Regions from separate parts of the Homo sapiens genome. Here region 2 is linked to region 1. Evidence: fine-mapped expression QTL. A gene starts in region 1. The other region holds a variant in brackets. All regions are shown on one strand. Distances are between the middles of the regions.

Region 1 (5,362 bases):
GGGCTCGGAAAGGGCTGCTACCCTCATCCGGGCACCTCCTGTGTGCTACAGCACTGCTCCTCCCAGCAGCCCTATGCATGAGACACTCAGTATTACCACCCGTGCTGTGCAGAAAGGGAAAACAAGGCTTCGAGAGGCTCCAGGGTGGAGATGCCAGGATCAACAGTGAGGCATTCTGCTCTCAGTGCTGGAGCTCCTACTGCCCCCCATGCTGAATCTCACCAGCAATTTTGTCCTCCCCCAGACAATGGAGCGGGCCCCTGGAAAACTCAGAGTGAAGGAATAACTTGGGGATCCACTCCCTGTGACCAGCGACCACAGCCTAGAGCCGCAAGTCTGTCCCCTCCACCCCCCCACCAAGACACTTGCTATGGGGCTGGCTGGGCATCAGGCAATGTTCAAGAGATGCGTTTGAGAGGATGGGGTACAGGGCTACCCCCACCCCACAATCCAGTCTGCGAACTAGTCCCCACTAAGGGGAGGGGGCAGAGGGATGCACTGGGCTTGGAGACCACCCGGGGAGGCATCTGACATCTGCTCAGGGCTGTGGCTGTGCTCATTCTGTGCTGGGGTGGCAAGGCTCAAAGGAATGGTCTTGCACCCCAGGCTGGGGAGAGAATCAGGAGGGCTTCCTGGAGAAAGAGACGTCTAAATGGAGATCTGGGACCAATGGCTATCAGCCTAGGACAGACCGTGGCTGCCTTGGGCCAGATATACAGAGAGTGGCAGGACCCCAAATCTTTGCCACCCCAGACCCTCCCAGTCCCTGCAGCTATAAAGGATGGGATGCCTTTCATCCTCATGCTTCTGGGAAAGCCCGCACCCCTCCCAGCTTGTCTGGGTTCATTAGAACCTTTTGTTAGGTCCAAGCTGGGGCCTTCAGGATGGAGAGCTGCACGAAGGAGGGAGGCTGGGAGGAGGCAGAGGGCGGGGCGAGGCCTGGCCCCACCACTGGTATGTGGGTGTCTGCATGTGTGAAGGACTGGATGGGTCTAGTCTCTGGGGTGGAGAGGACAGAACGGTTCTCCACGGCTGGCACGGAGCATCCAATTGTGCAATGCCCCAGGGAACAGTGCAGGGACTGGACGGGCCTCTGGTTGGGTCTGAGTGCCAGCTGGACGCAGCCATGGAGGAGGGGTGTGCAGGCCCTGCCCAGTCTCTGGGGTTGTGAAAGATAGGGGAGGGGTGGGGAAATCTCTAAAGGCGGGTAATGCCTCTGAGCTTGAAAGAGCCCAAACGGAGATACGGGTGGGTGGGATCACAGGGCAGGGGGGTTTCTGAAAGGGCTGGAAGGCCCCGGAATGGAGTGTCGCACTCCAGCGTGCTAGGGCCCCGCCGCCTGCACCTGTCCGACTGGTCGGCCTAGGCCGGACTGCAGGGGTTGAGTGGGAGCCCTGGGCCCAGAGGCCTCTCCTTGCCTAGGGAAGAAGTGAGGAGCTGCTTGAGGGCACAGTGGGGGCTCCCAGTGAGAGCAGCTTGGGGGCAGAACTCCCAGACAGGAGAGCCATGTAATGTGCGGGCCCCTCACCTGCCTGAAGCCTCTTGTCCGAGAAGCTGGCAAAATGGTCCTTGCTAGCCCAGAGCCCCCACTCTATTTTCCGAAGTGGGGATATAAGGCAGGGGCTGGATTCCCACCCCCTCCGTCAATCTCAGCATCTCCACCAGGCTCCCCTAAACCGGTTATTAAGTGAACACATTAGGCTTATCAAAAGGGACGTGGGCTGCTTCTCCCTGCAAACACATCAAGACATGCCATTCCCCTCCCAGGCCGCCCTGGGAACCCGCGGCTCAGAGACGCCGCCAGTTTCGGGGCTGGGGTGGGGGCAGGGAGCCACACCCCTGCGAAACCGAGCTTCGAAGAGGAGGCCCCGAAGCCGCCCAACCTCCGCTCAGAACCCAGAGGGTGGGGAGGTAAGGGGGTGCCTCCCCCTGTGCCCCTCGACCCGACCCCACACCCCCCAGGGCCTCCGGGCGCGGCTCTGGCGCGCAGGGTGGCAGGTGCCGGGAAGTGCAGCGGCGGGTGGCCCGCCCCCTCCGGACACCCATCCCTCGCCTCCCCGACGCCAGGAACACTTGCGCGGTCTCAGAGGCGCTGGAGAGCGCCCCCCGACGCCAGCTCAGTTTCCCTGCCTCAGGGCGCCCCCTGGACGGAGCTTCCTGGGTCGCCCGCAGCGACCCCGCCTTGAGTGCCCGGTCCTCCAAAAACTCCGCCCCCTCATCCAGGTGACTATTCCCGGTCCTGTGCGACCCTCTGCGCAAGAGCGACCCTGGGACACGGGGGTGCCCTGTACCCCCAGCTCAGCTGCCCGTGCCCTAGGCCCTCAAGGCAATGCTCCCTGGGCTCCCGGAGTCCCCTGTGTTATGCTCCCCCTCGGGGACCCCAGCCAGTCCCTTCCCACCTGGCGGCGCTTCCCAGCTTCAGGGTGGCCTCGGTCCCGCGTTCCCGAGAGTCCCGCACTCCGGGTTCAGTTCCCGGTTCCTGGACCCCCGTACCCCCCATTCCTACACTGCCCGGGAGGTCTTCCAGGTCCTGTGCGCCCACAGGGGCAAGAGCGTCCCGGAGCGGAGCTGTGGGCGCCTCCTCACCTCCGGGTCTGCACAGTGGGGCTGTATTTGCCTTTGTTTCTCTTCCTGAAGAGCGAGTTCATGGTGGCGCTCGGGGTGCGGGCGGCGGCGGCTGGCGGGCCGGGCGCGCACCGAGGGGCGGGCGGGAGCGCAGGTGAGCGAGCGGCGGCGCGGGGAGCCCGGACTGCGGCGCGGCAGTGGCTCCGGGTCCCTACTCGCTGGGGGCGGGGCGCCCGCCGGCCACTGGCTCTGCGGGCCGCTCCCCGAGAAGGTGGTGCTTACCTTCCCGAGGAGGGGCCACCGCGCGGGCGGGGCTTGGACGCGGGGGTGGGGACACTGGGTCTTGGCCGGACGCCGCCCACCCCCAGCCGGGGGACTCCGGAGGCCGGGCAGGCACTGGGGCGCAAAGGCCGCCGGGGCGAGCGCTCGCAGCCCCACCCTCCTCGGGCCCGGCGCGCCTCTGGCCGAGGCCTTCACCTGGTTCTGCGCTACCGCGGAACTCGGCGCTCCTGGTGCTTTGGCGGACACCCAGCTGGGCCCCGCAAGACAGGTGCGGCAGAGACCCGCACGGATTCATGTGCCCTAGTAGCTAGCGAATTGCACTCAGATGGTGGCAATTGAGGGAAGGGGGCTGAACTGCCGAGGGCGCCGGCCTGAGTTCAAGCCCTGCCACCCCCAGGTTGGCTGACACTCCTGGGCAAGGTGTTTTACTGCTCCCAGCCACAGTTTACTTCTTTGTCAAACGGTGATAACCACCACCCCATCCGAAAGGCCTGTGGGGATGTCCCTGCAGGTAATGCACGCAAAGCGCTGAGCGCAGTGCCCTGGCCTGAATCTGCTCTCCGCTTGCCATCTCGGGTGGACAAAAACTCCTTTGAAACTTCAATAACTCCAGGCCCTGGCACTAGAAGAGCGCTTCATAGCTGGTCATAAAAGCTGCTCGATTGCGGCTCAGAACAACGACGTTGCACAATTCTGCCAGCATGTCCTGGCCCAGACTGTGTGCCAGTGGAGGAGGCTGCCCTTAGACAGAAACCTAATCTGACCTGAAGCCCGGATGGCACACACCACCACACCTGGCTAATTTTTAAAAATTTTTGTAGAGGCAGAGTTTCACCATGTTGCCCAGGCTGGTCTTGAACTCCTGTGCTCAAGTGATCTGCCGGCCTACAGCCTCCCAAAGTGCTGGGATTACAGATATTAGCCACCGTGCCCAGCCAACCTTATTCTTAATGGGGCTTCTATGGGTGGGCTTAACCCATTTATGCCTGAGGTTGCAATTTTTTGAATTGATAAATCATACCTTGGCAGTGACCTTGAGCAGTAGGAGATAACTCCCACAGGCGTCACGTTCCAATAATGGACCACTAGGCGTAAATAGAGGTGTGATTCCTCCTAAAGTTGTGCCTGCCTGCCTGCCTTCCTTCTTTCCTTCCTCTCTCTTTCCTTTCTTGCTTTCTTGCTTTCTTTCTTCTTTCTTCTTTGAGACTCAGTTGCCCAGGCTGGAGTGCATTGGCACAATCATAGCTCACTGCAGCCTTGACTTTTGGGGCTCAAGCAATCCTCCCACCTCAGCTTCCCGAGTAGCTGGATCCACAGGTGTCCACCACCACGCCTGGCTAATTTTTAAAACCTTTATATTTATATATGTTTTTTGTAGAGATGGGGTCTCGCTGTGTTGCCCAAGCTGGTCTTGAATTCCTGGGCTCAAGCAGTCCTCCCACCTTGGCCTCCCAAAGTGCTGGGATTTCAGGTGTGAGCCACTGCACCCAGCCCTAAAGTTGCTTTCAAAATGTGTGTGTCCAAATGTGCATTTTTCTGGGGGAGGATGTATTGCTCAGTGGAGTCATTTACTCATTCAACACATGTTTCCCATCACTCTCACAGCCTCAGTGTGCCTGGCTCTGCTTGTTGTACACGGATGAGAAAAGGGAAAAGAACAACACAAAAGGGGCTTTCTCTTTGGGAGCTTTCAGGTCCCGGGGCAGGGGACACATATTAAAAATGTTAACTTGGATGGGCGCGGTGGCTCACTCCTGTAATCCCAGTACTTTGAGAGGTCGAGGCAGGGGGATCACCTGAGGTCAGGAGTTCAAGACCAGCCTGACCAACATGGTGAAACCCCGTCTCTCCTAAAAATAAAAAATTAGCTGGGCGTGGTGGCGCCTGCCTGTAGTCCCAGCTACTTGGGAAGCTGAGGCAGGAGAATCTCTTGAAACTGGGAAGGGGAGGTTGCAGTGAGCTCATATCACGCCACTGCACTCCAGCCTGGGAGGTCACAGTGAGCTGAGATCGTGCCACTGCACTCCAGCCTGGGCGACAGAGTGAGACTTCGTCAAAAAACAAAAACAAAAACAAAAACACGTTAACTTTTCTTTTTCTTTCTTTTTTTTTGGAGATAGGGTCTTGCTGTGTTGCTCCGGCTGGAGTGCAGTGGCGTGATCATGGCTCACTGCAGCCTTCCTTGACCTCCCAGACGGAAGCCGTTGTCTCTTCTCAGCCTCCCTCTCAAGTAGCTGGGACCACAGGTGTGCACCACCATGCCTGGCTAATTTTTTTTAAATTAATTAATTATTATTTTTTTTTTGACAGTCTGGCTCTTGTCGCCCAGGCTGGAGTGCAATGACACACTCTCGGCTCACTGCAACCTCTGCCTCCTGGATTCAAGCAACTCTCCTGCTGCCACCACGCCCTGCTAATTTTTGTATTTTTAGTAGAGACAGAGTTTTGCCATGTTGGCCAAGCTGGTCTTGAACTCCTGACCTTGTGATCTGCCTGCCTCAGCCTCCCAAAGTGC
Region 2 (5,362 bases), 43 kb before region 1:
CAATCCTGCCCCAGCCTCCTGAATGGCTGGTGTTACAGGCATGTGCCACTACACTGGCTATTGCAGATATTTGATCTTAAAATGCTGGCACCCGAAATCCCGTAAGTCACACAGATCCCGTGAATAGCTTGGATTTGTGCTGTGGGCCTCCATTTGCAGTTCCCAATTTGGGCATTCCAAACCTGGGGAGACTGGATGCTGGTGTCCTCATCTATCCAGACGGGCGGGTGGATGTGCCAGATGCTCTCACCTGCTCAGAGAAGGACTCCCAGGACTTGGGCCCTAGACTCACCGCCAGCTCCTGCCCCTTGCTGTCCAGGACACGGCTGCTCTCAGGCACTGTGTCATCCTGATTCAGATGGTTCTCGTGTGTGGCCAGCAACTCCCAGCTCTGCTGCAGGCTCTTCTCCAGGCGGTTGGCCACATCAACCCTGAGAGCACCAATCAGGCGTCGGGGGATGCCCACCTGGCCCCCTGACCCCACCCCAACCTCCATGCTGCCTGTCTGCCACCCACTTCTCCTGGGCCAAGTCCAGCAGCTGCAGGAGGTGCTCGTATTTCCGGTTGGTGTCCTCCACCCGGGTCCTCAGCAGGGGTGTGGTGCCACTGCCTGGGAGGGCCTGGATGAAGGCTTCGCCCTCAGCCGTGCTCCGCGTCTTCTCAGGTTCAATCCGCAGTAGCTCGTTGGTGATGTTCTGTGGGAACCAGGGCCCCTCAGTTTTGGACACAGCCAGGCAGCCCCTTCCCCTGAGGATGTGCCCAGGGTGAGCACAGATTCCCACATCAGGCACAGTGGAAGCAGCTGGAGAGGCCTGGCACATTCTGGGGCTCTGACCCGGCATCTGGACCCCAGCCTGAGGGCTGTATTTTTCACGAGCATCCCAGGGAACCGCTGAGGTGGAATGGACTAGTGACACCAGAAGCACCCAGGCAGCTGCCGGGCCTGTGCTGTCCTCAGCACTGCACGCGGACGCTTCTGTTTAATCTTTGCGGCAACCCCGGGAGGTGAGTACTACGACTCCACCCAGTCACGGGTGGGGGTGTGACGACTCCCAGCAGCTTAGGAAGGGACTTGTGGGGTCAGGCTACACCCGAGACCGGCATCCTCTCGCCCTGACTTGGCTCTCACTCTGAGGCCCCATCAGGGGCTATGGCACTTCTCCAATCCCAGATCCTCTTCTGTAAAATTGGAGTGCTACTCACTGCCTCAGAGGGCTGCCTTGAGGATGTGGGAGACTTTGTATAGGAAAGGAGGTGGGGGGAGGTGGCCCCTCCACGTCCCCCCTGGCATCAGCTCACCCTGTCCTCGCCACTGCCCTGTGAGCAGGGCCAACCCATCCTACTGAAGACACTGAGGCCTGGAGTTTATAAATACAAACGCTAACGTGTTTGCAGTCAAGCCAGCCGGTGACCCAGTCCTGCGGAATTCCACAGCCCATGTGCCATGCCAGGCGTCAGATCGACAAGCCGTGCAGGAACAATGCAAGTCCTGCCAGCTCTTTCTCCTGGGGAGGTAATGACAGCAGCCCTGCCACCTCCATGACTTGGGACCCTTTTACATGCAGCAGGCTGTCCCTGACAGACAGCTGCAGTGAATATCCCAAGACTCCATGGGGAAAAGACCTCAAATAGGGGCCCCAGGGGGCCAGTGCAGGGCTCCCCCGGCCCCACCTGTGCTCCTGACCCGCAGGTACCTTGAGGTCCTTGGCCCGCTCGGCACTGTCCTGCACAGCCCGGCCTTGCTCCAGTGGTGGCCGCAGGATCCCTGTGATGGCCTTCTCCTGCCGGTCCAGGTCGCTGGCCACCTTGTCCAAGCCAGCCAGCAGCTGCCGCCCCTGTAGGTCAGAGGCATCTGTGGAGGGAGGGAGGACACAGGCAGGTGTGACAACGGGCCAGGGGTGTGAGGCCCAGGGATGGACCTAGGCAGCCAGCCCCCCGCCGTCTCATCCACAGCACAGACCCTGGTCCAGCCCCTCCTCCCCGGTACCCCCAGAGCCTCAGGCGAGTGGCCCTGGCACCCACCTCCGGGATTCTCGGTCTTCAGCACCTCATACCGCTGCTGCAGCGTGCGTTTGCTCCCAGCTGCCTTCTGCCGCACGCTCCGGTACTGGCTGCCCAGGCTGTGAGGACAGAAATGAGCTGGGAACCTGGGCAGCCCACCACCCCCTGCACCCACAGAGGCGGGACTGCGGACTCTGGCTGGGCAGACACCCCAGAGGAGCCTGACAGCTCCTTAGATGCGGACAGCAAGTGCTCACTGTGGCACTGGCCTTTCTGTGCTCCTGGGCTCAGAGCTCTTCTCCCTCCTTCCCTCCTCTTTCGTAGGAAGTCTCACTACCTAAAATTGTCTGTCCAATAATCACCACCAAGATGTTACTTCTGAGGGAGCATACACAGTAGGTGCTCAATAAATACTTAATAAATGAAGGCATTCCTTGAATGATCCACTCATTCAGCAAGGAGTTCCTGGGCACCTACTTTGTACCAGGTACTTAACTAGGCCCTGGAGAGAGGAAATTCAAGGAGCCCAGGCCCAATGAGACTGACGCATACGCTAGTCACTTAATAAAAAGCGGTGCGTGCAGTGGAAGAAGGTGCCTGGGAGCAAAGAGGAGGCAGCCCTTATCCCAGCTGAGTCCTCCAGCCAAGGGGCTGGGGTCTGCAAGTACAGGGAGCAGTGCGTGCGGGAGTCAGGGGCCCTTAGAAACTGCTTAGAAACTCGTGAGGGGGCCAGGA[C/T]GAAGCCCAGAGCTAGACATTCATGTTTAGCAAGTCAGCTGGCCCACAATCTGCCCCTCTCCTGCATGAACTTCCAAGGGGGTGCAGATGGAGAGTGTCAGCGACCCCGCGCTCCCCACAGGCTGAGTCCAAATCCCCGGGGCTATGAATGGGGCCTGAGAAGCCCTGGGGGTGGGACTGGTCCATGCAGACTCCCGCCTTTGCCCTTGTACCTGTCAGCCAGAGCCAGGGCCTCAGGGTCTGTGGGGGGGATCACAAAACACACGGCCGGAGCAATCAGCTTGTTCCCAGCGCTGTCCATGAGCTCCCAGCTCTCCCCGTTGTTCTTCTGCAGGGTGTAGCTGTAGCCCCGCGAGATCAGGCCCTGGCGGGGGCAGGCTGGACAGTCAGGATCCCGGCAGGGCCTGAGGGCCTGGGAGCCCGGTTGCCATCTCAGCCCCCGACTCTTGGACCTGGGGAGCCCCGGCTCATCACTTGGACCCTCCCCGTAGAGTGGGGAGGGGCATGCAGGAGAAGCACATGTGTTGAGGCTGCCGGCCCAGCAACCCACCTCCATTTCCCTTTGGGGAACCTTCCCTCCCAATTCCCAGTCCCTGTGGTCTCTCCTTCTCCATTCCCAAGCTCCAGATGGACATGTGACTTGGACCTGGCCAATGACTGGCATTCGCCAGCCACAGTCATTGGTATAGGGTGGACCCTGGCATTCCCTGGCCACAGTGATTGGTGTAGGATGGACACGTGACTCACAGTGAGCCAATGAGAACCTGGCCTGGGACTTCTGAGGAGGGACTGGGGTTGCTAAGCTGGTGGAACACAAGGCCAGGGCAGCCGAGGTGGGGGCGGCATAGGGGTGCCAGTTGGCCTGCACCAGGGGAAGGGTTGGCAGAGTGACACCAACCACGGAGACAGGCACAGGCTCCTGAGAACGGCGCCTGAGGCCCGGGATCCAACCATGTTACCCCAAAAACTTTGTAGTGATGTGAACAGAGGAGCTGGCCCCACGCACCTGCTCCCCCTCAAAGTCACAGAGTGCCTCCACGGGGATGGGCTTGAGCGGAGTCTCCCGGCGGTACTTGAGGGGCACCACCTGCTGGCCTCGCTTCTGCAGCCCCTGCACCACGTCCTCATACTTGTCCAGCACCTTCTCCTGGTCCTGGAGAGAACGGGGTCAGGGGCCCAGGTGAGACCAACAGCCTTCCCCCTGGTGGGAGGACGCAGAGCAGGGGCTGGATTCAGCAGGTGGGGTGCTGTGGAGGGGCCTGTACAGGGCTGAGGGCAGGCATGGTGTAGAGGGGTCCCCCGCCCCCCGGGCCAGCAGGGGTCCTGGGCCATCGCTCACATCCAGCTCCCGCAGCAGCAGCTCAATCTGGTACCGGTCCTTGAAGTCAGGGCCATACTTCTGGTTCAGGTCCGAGTCCACCTTGCGCAGCAGCTCCTGAGCGTCCTTCACGTCTTCGTGAAACTAGGGGAGAAGGTGGCTCTGTTACAGCCAGGAAACCACTAGAAGCACCTGGGCTTCTGTCGGAGGCTTCAAGCTCATCCCTCAGGCGGGGCTGGGCCTCCGGTTCACCTGGAGTCCAGCATGGGACCCTGTGCTGAGCCTGAGGCTCCTCTGCGTGGAGACAGCCCCACCCTCCCTGAGCTGGCTCCTTAGGGGCCTCACTGGGAAAAGCCAGGTCCCTTCCCACCCATCCATGAGATGCCACCTCTGTGACATGTTTTCTTGGATGTATCAGTAAGTCTTGAGGTGTCTTTGATTCAGTTCCTCTCTCTGTACTAGGAACATCCAGACTTAATACTATAGCTTCTTTCTAGGTTTTGATAATAGCCTCCCCTTTTTGTTCTCGAAAATTCTCTTGCCCATTCTTCAGTCTATCAACTCTTGGTTCACTGTCAGCTATCCCCTGGGCTGAGCACCTGGGCTGCAGCCATAAACAGGACCTGAAGCCCCCACTGTGCGGCTCAGACAGGGAATGAGGAGTGACACGGCGTCGCCCACATCCAGCTTTCCCCAGACACCTCAATCCTAAGAATTACCCGCAGCTTCTTAAGAACTCTCATTCCTCTGGAAACAGACAAGTGTCCAGCCACAGATGAGTGGATAAACACAGTGGTCTAGCCATACAATAGGATATGATTCAGCCATAAAAAGGGGTGAAGCACTGAAAATGCTACAACACGGATGAACCCGGAAAACATGATGCTCAGTGAGAGAAGCCAGACACAAAAGGGCAGAGATTGCATGATCCCACTGATTCTTCATATTCGTTCTAGGTGTGACACTTCTGGAACAGGCAAGTCCATAGAGACAGCAAGAAGACCAAAGGTGACCTGGGGCTGGGGGAGTGGGAATGGAAAACTTACTGCCTAATGAGTACGGGGTTGTTTTTTTTTTTTTTTTTTGAGGCGGAGACTCACTCTGTCGCCCAGGCTGGAGTGCAATGGCGCGATCTCAGCTCACTGCAACCTCTGCCTCCTGGGTTCAAGCAGTTCTCCTGCCTCAGCCTCCCATCTGGGACTACAGATATGGGCCACCACACCTGGCTAACTTTTGTATTTTAGTAGAGATGGGGTTTCATCATGTTGGCCAGGCTGGTCTTGAACTCCTGACCTCAGGTGATCCAGT

Evidence for each region. PIP is the estimated chance that this variant, and not a neighbour inherited with it, causes the effect. A credible set is the group of variants that fine-mapping cannot tell apart.
Region 2: its variant is the best candidate, but not a certain one, in a credible set for the expression of PPL in whole blood (GTEx, PIP 0.73).

The regions. Positions count from the first base shown.
Region 1 is chr16:4,934,398-4,939,759 of GRCh38, forward strand. PPL (periplakin) reads right to left here and starts at 2,751. Exons shown (of 22, transcript NM_002705.5): 1 at 2,587-2,751. The coding sequence starts at 2,648. RefSeq lists a silencer at 2,694-3,093.
Region 2 is chr16:4,891,519-4,896,880 of GRCh38, forward strand. PPL (periplakin) reads right to left here. Exons shown (of 22, transcript NM_002705.5): 10 at 4,076-4,198; 11 at 3,743-3,889; 12 at 2,949-3,100; 13 at 2,023-2,120; 14 at 1,695-1,852; 15 at 517-695; 16 at 293-431. LOC124903637 (a long non-coding RNA gene) reads left to right here and starts at 4,198. Exons shown (of 3, transcript XR_007064965.1): 1 at 4,198-5,062. RefSeq lists an enhancer at 3,740-4,585. The variant C/T (reference allele first, on the strand shown) is at 2,737.